Linked DNA regions of Homo sapiens. The protein of the gene in region 1 purifies or fractionates together with the protein of each later gene. This does not show direct contact. Each region holds a gene or a part of one and is shown on either strand. Other genes may lie near its edges. The genes, in order: ZSWIM9 and SCAI.

What was found.
Region 2: the proteins of ZSWIM9 (region 1) and SCAI purify together in Homo sapiens (affinity purification with mass spectrometry, with the first as the bait; one large-scale study listed by BioGRID). This does not show direct contact.

Annotation. Positions count from the first base shown.
Region 1 is NC_000019.10:48,187,423-48,191,243, forward strand, and holds part of ZSWIM9 (uncharacterized protein ZSWIM9), read left to right. Parts: intron 1-3,821.
Region 2 is NC_000009.12:125,003,927-125,007,747, reverse strand, and holds part of SCAI (protein SCAI), read left to right. Parts: intron 1-3,821. UniProt on the Homo sapiens protein: Tumor suppressor which functions to suppress MRTFA-induced SRF transcriptional activity. May function in the RHOA-DIAPH1 signal transduction pathway and regulate cell migration through transcriptional regulation of ITGB1.

The DNA.
Region 1 (3,821 bases):
ATTATATTATATTATATATATTATATATTATATATTAATTATATATATTATATATATTATATATTATATTATAATATATTATATTATATTATATATATTATATATTATATTATTATTATATTATATTATATATATTATATATAATATTATATATATTATATATTATATAATATAATATTATATATTATATTAATATTATAATATGTAACGCATAACATGTAATATTGATAATATAATAGGTGCGATGGCTCACACCTGTAATCTCAGCACTTTGGGAGGCCGAAGCGAGAGGATCACTTGAGCCCAGGAGTTCAAGACCAGCCTGGCCAACATAACGAGCACCTGTCTCTACAAAAAATTAAAAAAAAAAAAATTAGGCATGGTGGCATGCATCTGTAGTCCCAGCTACTCAAGAGGCTGAGGCACGAGGGTTGCTTGAGCCCAGGAGCTTCAGGCTGCAGTAAGCTATGATCACACCACTGTACTCCAGCCTTGACAACAGAGTGAGACCCTTTAAATAGATAGATAGATAGATAGATAGATAGATAGATAGATAGATAGATAGACAGACAGACAGCAAGCTTTAAATTTTCATCCCAAGCCTAGGTCAAGCAACAATCAGTCTTTCCACTTCCCAGCAGTCTTCCAAAGGAAGGATTATTTGTAAAAAGTGCCTGCACTTCCTGAGTTGGGTTGCTCTCTTGATCTTTGGAGGGGATCAGACAAGAAGGATGCGCCCAAAGCCACAAGGCATGATTTAAGGGCAAGACTGGGGGGCGACTTCACCCAGGGAGGTGTTAATACCTTTTTTTTTTTTTGAGATGGAGTCTCGCTCTGTCTCCCAGGCTGGAGTGCAGTGGCGCAATCTTGGCTCAGCACGACCTCCATCTCCCAGGTTCAGGTGATTCTTGTGCCTCAGCCTCTTGAGTAGCTGGGACTACAGGCGTGCGCCACCAGGCCTGGCTAATTTTGTGTGTGTGTGTTTTAGTAGAGATGGGGTTTCATCATGTTGGCCAGAATGGTCTCGATCTCCTGGCCTGGTGATCTGCCTGCCTCGGCCTCCCAAAGTGCTGGGATTACAGGCGTGAGCCACCGCACCCAACCTTTAACACCTTTTATCACCTGCCCTGCCTGATGATGATGGGCTTTGGGGTCCAGTCACATCTCCATTCCCTCACTTGTGGCAGGCACCAGGGTAACCAGCAAGCAAGCCCTGAAAAGAGAGACCTTGCCCGGAAACGTTGCAGCGTTCTCTTACGTGTATGCTTTGCCTTCTGAGAATGGCGAGCATTGATGCAAGTGTATCCCTTTTAAGAATACTCAATGGGGCCAGGCGTGATGGCTCACACCTGTAAGCCCAGCACTTTGGGAGGCTGAGGCGGGTGGATCACGAGGTCAGGAGATCGAGACCAGCCTGGCTAACATGGTGAAACCCCGTCTCTACTAAAAATACAAAAAATTAGCCAGGTGTGGTGGCAGGCGCCTGTAGTCCCAGCTACTTGGGAGGCTGAGGCAGGAGAATGGCGTGAACCCGGAAGGCGGAGCTTGCAGTGAGCTGAGCTCACACCACTGTACTCCAGCCTGGGTGACAGAGCGAGACTCCATCTCAAAAAAAAAGAATACTCCATGGGAAGCTGGTATGATCTCAGTGGAGGGCAATTTAGCAATATCTATCAAAATGACAAGAACACTCACCCTTAGGCTCACAATCCCACTACTGGTGATTTATCCTGCAGATGTAGTTGCACAGCTGTGGAAGGACTTACTTACAAGGTTAATCATTGTTGTTTGTGAAAGCAGCAGATTAGAAACAACCCAGACTCCACCAACGGGTAATGGTTACATAACTTGTGGTATATCCATCCATGGATTACTACACAGCACTAAAAAAGAATGAGAACTTTGGGAAGCCGAGGCGGGCAGATCACAAGGTCAGGAGATCAAGACCATCCTGGCTCACATGGTGAAACCCTGTCACTACTAAAAATACAAAAAATTAGCCAGGCATGGTGGCAGGCACCTGTAGTCCCAGCTACTCGGGAGGCTGAGGCAGGAGAATGGTGTGAACTCAGGAGGCGTAGCTTGCAGCGAGCCAAGATCGTGCTACTGCACTCCAGCCTGGGCGACAGAGTGAGACTCCATCCTAAACAAACAAAAAAAAAAGAATAAGAACAAGTCTAGGAACTATTTTGAAAGATCTCTCAAACACATTTTTAAGTTAAAAAAGCAAAATGCAAAACTGTACATAATATGCTGTATTATCTATAAAATAGAGCAAATAAGAATTATAGGTATGCTTACTTGTACTCATATAAAGAAACTCTAGAAGAATACCAAGAACTGTGGATGAGGGTAGAATAGTGAATGGAAACTGACTGATTAGACTAAAGAGGTGGGAGTAAGACCTTTTATGTATCGCTTTACATTATTTGACTTTAGGACCATGTGGATGTTTGCATATTCAAATAATTAATTCTTAAAAAGAAGATGAAAATAGAAGGTGGGCGCAGTGGCTCACACCTGTAATCCCAGCACTTCGAGAGGCTGAGGTGGGTGGATCACTTGAGGTCAAGAGTTTGAGACCAGCTTGGCCAACATGGTGAAACCCCGTCTCTACTAAAAATACATAAATTAGCCAGGCATGCTCGTGGGTGCCTGTAGTCCCAGCTACTCGGGAGACTGAGGCAGAAGAATCACTTAAACCTGGGGTGGCGGAGGTCGCAGTGAGCCGAGATCATGCCACTGTACTCCAGCCTGGGTGACAGATTGAGACTCCATCTCAAAAAAAAAAAAAAGAAAGAAAATTAAGCAATAGTCCCAACATACTAAACGCATTTGTTTCTCTCCTCAAAGGAAAAATTAGAGGGCGAGTTATAGAGGGTCTTGAGGTTGTGTGAGTCAGGATGGCCTAGGTTTTGCTGTAATAATGAACAGCCCTCAAATCTCAGTGGCTGAACTCATTGAATTTTATTTCTTGCTCACTTACACAGCCACCACGGGATGTTGGGGGAGTACTGTTTATCTGAGTCATTCTGGGACCCAGGAGGATGGGCATTCAGCCCAACGTAATTACCATATCTGGCAGCGGTGGCTGCGAAGGCTTCTCCTTGGATGCGATGCCGCAGCTCCCTCCCACTCACACTTGATTGGCCAAAGCAAGTCACATGACACTGCTTACCTGCAAGGGGGCAGGGAGGTGCAACGCTACTAAGTGCCCGGGAGAGGGAGAACTGCAATTTCTTGGCAAGCGGCAAAAGATAACCACAGGGTACTGTTTCATCAAGGGCCGCCCAAAGCCCTGTCTGAATATGGGGCTCGTGTTTCCCCTGCTATGTAGTTACACAGGCCTCCTGCAGCTTAGTTTCAGCTTTTCTAGTTTTTCATGGCTCCCAGAGGGAATATTTTCTATGCCGTATAGCCTGTTTTCACATGAAGCCATTTTGGGGTGTTATAGTAACAGCTGGTGACTTGATTTTATTTATGTTGCTATGTGCTGAAAGCTTTATGAATGTTCTGGCTGTGCCAGTTACTAGCTGTGGGACATGGAACAAGTTATGAACAACCTATTTACCTTCTCCAACCCTTAGTTCATTTATCTGTAAAATGGGGATAATACTATCTTATAGGGCTGTTGGGGTTGTTGTGTGAGAAAGTGCAGTGTGTATGTGTATGTGTGTGTGTGTGTGTGTGTGTGTGTGTGTGTGCAGAATGGGTAGAACCGTGCCCAGAAGTAGGAAGCCCTGCATATGTTCAATATTTAGCTATTATTTTGTTGTTGTTGTTTGTTTGTTTGTTTTTTTGAGATGGAGTCTCTCTCTGTC
Region 2 (3,821 bases), on another chromosome or scaffold:
AAGTCAAGGCTGCAGTGAGCCATGATTGTGCCACACACTTCAGCCTGGGTGACAGAAGCAGACCCTGTCTTAAAAAAAATTTTTTTTTTTTCTTTTTAGAGACAGTATCTGGCTCTGTCATGCAGGTGGGAGTGCAGTGGCACAGTCATGGCTCACTGTAGCCTTGACCTCCCAGGCTGAAGTGATCTTCCTGCCTCAGCCTTCCAAAAATGTTTATGTTTTATAGAGATGGGGTGTTGCTGTATTGCCAAGGCTGGTCTCAAACTCCTGGCCTCAAGCAGTCCTTCTGCCCTAGCCTCCCAAATGTTGGGATTATAGGCATGAACCACGGCACCTGGCCCTTTTTTATTTTTTAGTAGATTTTAATTCTCTGGCAGAATTCTCTATTTCTTCATTTGTGTTCTACCATGTCTATTTTGTTGATCACACTTAGTAGTTATTTTAAAGTCCTTTTCTGCTAACTATACTCTCTAGTTATGCTAACTACAAGTGTGTTGGTCTGTTCTATTGCTTGTTTCTCACTTTTAAAATTATCATATTAATATTTATAATTACTATATATCTGATAATTTGCTTGCATATTAATTTATAATCAAATCCCCCAGCATTCTCTTTCTTTTCTTTTTGTTTTGAGACAGTCTTGCTCTGTCACCCAGGCTAGCATGCAGTGGCATGATCTCGGCTCACTGCATCTTCTGCCTCCCTGGTTCAGTTGATTCTCCCACCACAAACTCCCCAGTAGCCAGGACTACAGGCACGCCCTACGCGCCCAGCTAATTTTTGTATTTGTTAGTAGAGATGGGGTTTCACCATGTTGGCCAGGCTCGTCTCAAACTCCTGACCTTAGGTGATTCACCTGCCTCAGTCTCCCAAAGTGCTGGGATTACAGGTGCGAGCCAGCACACCTGGCCTCAGTTTTTACATTTCATTTATTGTATTTTTTATTTTTAAAAGTATAGGTCAGGTGCAGTGGCTCACACCTGTAATCCCCACACTGTGGGAGGCCGAGGCGGGCAGATTACGAGGTCAGGAGTTCAATACCAGCCTGACCAATATGGTGAAACCCCATCTCTACTAAAAATACAAAAATTAGCCGGGCGTGGTGGCGTGCGCCTGTAGTCCTAGCTACTCAGGAGGCTGAGGCAGGAGAATCACTTGAACCCGGGAGGCAGAGGTTGCAGTGAGCCGAGATCGCGCCACTGCACTCCAGCCTGGGTGACAGAGCGAGACTCCGTCTCAAATGAATGAATGAATGAATGAATGAATGTATTAGGTTATTTTCTACATATTCCTTTGATTGGCTTAATCATGATTTTAATTACTTCTTCTATTTAAGCATATGAAACTAACTTTTTTTCTTTTAAGAGACCGGGGATGGGGGTGTGCATCTCACTATGTTGCCCCTTCTTTAATCCCCGCCTCTTGGCTGGTCTCCAGCTCCTGGCCTCAAATGATCCTCCCACCTTGGCCCTCCAAAGTGCTGGGATTACAGGTGTGAGCTGCCACACCTAGACTTTTGCATGTTATGTATGATGTTTGTATCATCCTGTTTCTGTTTGCTGAATCAGGCGTGCCTTTTTTCTTCATGCGTTTTATGATTTTTGTTTCTGAGTCTTCTTTGATGTAATTCTGTCAGCTAGAATTCTGTAAGACCTGAATTGAGGATGCCTTCTTCCAACGAAGATCTGCATTGCTTTTTCCCTCAAAACTTGGGGGCAGTATCAGTTTTTGTTCTTTTTAAGTGAAAAACCTTATAGATTTTTCAGCCATGCAAATAATGTTAATTCAGATTCTCAAACCACATGAGAATCAGCATATGGCCGTGAATTCTTGGGGGAGACTTTTCTTGATCTCTTCTCAGAACAAAGGCTAAGGTAGAGTTTCCTTCATGTTTATGTCTCTGGAGCAGATTTGTTTCTAGTGTTCTCCTCTGAGGCCATATCTTTTTGTGCATCCAGTTTTATTTGGGCATAGGTGTATGTGTGGGAGGGGCCATCTTCCAACCAACCAACCAGTTCTTAGCCAGGAGGCCCATGCTACCCTTACTACAGGAAAACAAGGCATTAGTGCCCACTTATCTCCTTAAACCTCTTCCCCTTCTTTAATCCCCGTCTCTTGGCTGGGCGCAGTGGCTCATGCCTGTAATCCCAGCACTTTGGGAGGCCGAGGCAGGTGGGTCATCTGAGGTCAGGAGTTCAAGACCAGCCTGACCAACATGGTGAAACCCCGCCTCTACTAAAAATACAAAATTAGCTGGGCATGGTGGCACATGCCTGTAATCCCAGCTACTCAGGATGCTGAGGCAAGAGAATCACTTGAACGTGGGAGGCGGAGGTTGCAGTGAGCCGAGATTGCGCCGTTGCACTCCAGCCTGAGTGACAGAGCGAAACTCACATACATACACACACACGTATATTAAATGAGTTAAATGTTTGAAAGTGTAGTTAGTAATCTTCATAAACTTATTCTCATCTTAACTAAATAATTCCTCTTCTTTTATTTGATAGAAACATGTTCTTTAAAAAATTCTCATCTGTTTTATTATCATGTGTGTTCCTGAAGTTCTATATAAGTATTACTGAAATTGGAAAAGGATATAGACTTAAATATTGTGTAGTGCCAAAATGTATGGAAGAAATTACTATAAAATATGGATCATAGGCTGGGCGCGGTAGCTCATGCCTGTGATCCCAGCCCTTTGGGAGGCTGAGGCAGGAGGATCATCTGAGGTCGGGAGTTCAAGACCAGCCTGACCAACATGGAGAAACCCCATCTCTACTAAAAATACAAAATTAGCCTGGTGTGGTGGCGCATGCCCATAATCCCAGCTACTCTGGAGGCTGAGGCAGGAGAATCGTTTGAACCCGGGAGGAGGAGGTTGCAGTGAGCCGAGAGCGCGCCATTGCACTCCAGCCTGGGTGACGAGAATGAAACTCCATCTCAAAAAAAAAAAAAAAAAAAAAAAAAATATATATATATATATATATATATATATATATATATATATATATATGGATCACAGTTGTATTTCAGCATAGCTAATTCATCAAAAGTTAGCTCTTTTTTCTCATGTAGCAAGGATTACTATCAAACTTCTGTGTATAGAATTCGGGCTGAAAAGTCAGGAATCGTGGCTTATGCCTGTATTCCTAGCACTTTGGGAGGCTGAGGTGGGCAGATGACTTGAGGTCAGGAGTTTGAGACCAGCCTGGCCAACATGGTGAAACCCCATCTCTGTTAAAAATACAAAAATTAGCCAGGTGTTTTGGCACACGCCTGTAATCCCAGCTACTCCAGAGACTGAGGCAGGAGAATCGTTTGAACACGGGAGGCAGATGTTGCAGTGAGCTGAGATTGTGCCACTGCACTCCAGCCTGGGCAACAGAGCAAGACTCTGTCTCAAAAAAAAAAAAAAAAAGAATTTGGGCTGGAGATCCTTGTGGTGTTAGTGAAAAACTTGCCCCTCACATAGCACACTACCTACACGTGTGAATTCATCCACCAGTCTGTGGAGGTTAACATGTTTGTAGAACCTAATATAGTCTCTGTGCTGCTGCTGCTTTATTTTTTTTGAGACAGAGTCTTTCTCTGTTACCCAGGCTGGAATACGATGGTGCGATTTCGGTTCATTGCAACCTCCGCCTCCTGGGTTCAAGCGATTCTTCTGCCTCAGCCTCCTATGTAGCTGGGATTACAGGCATCCACCACCACACCCGGCTAATTTTTGTATTTTTAGTAGAGATGGGGTTTCACCATGTTGGCCAGGCTGGTCTCGAACTCCTGACCTCAGGTGATCCACCTGCCTTGGCCTCCCAAAGTGC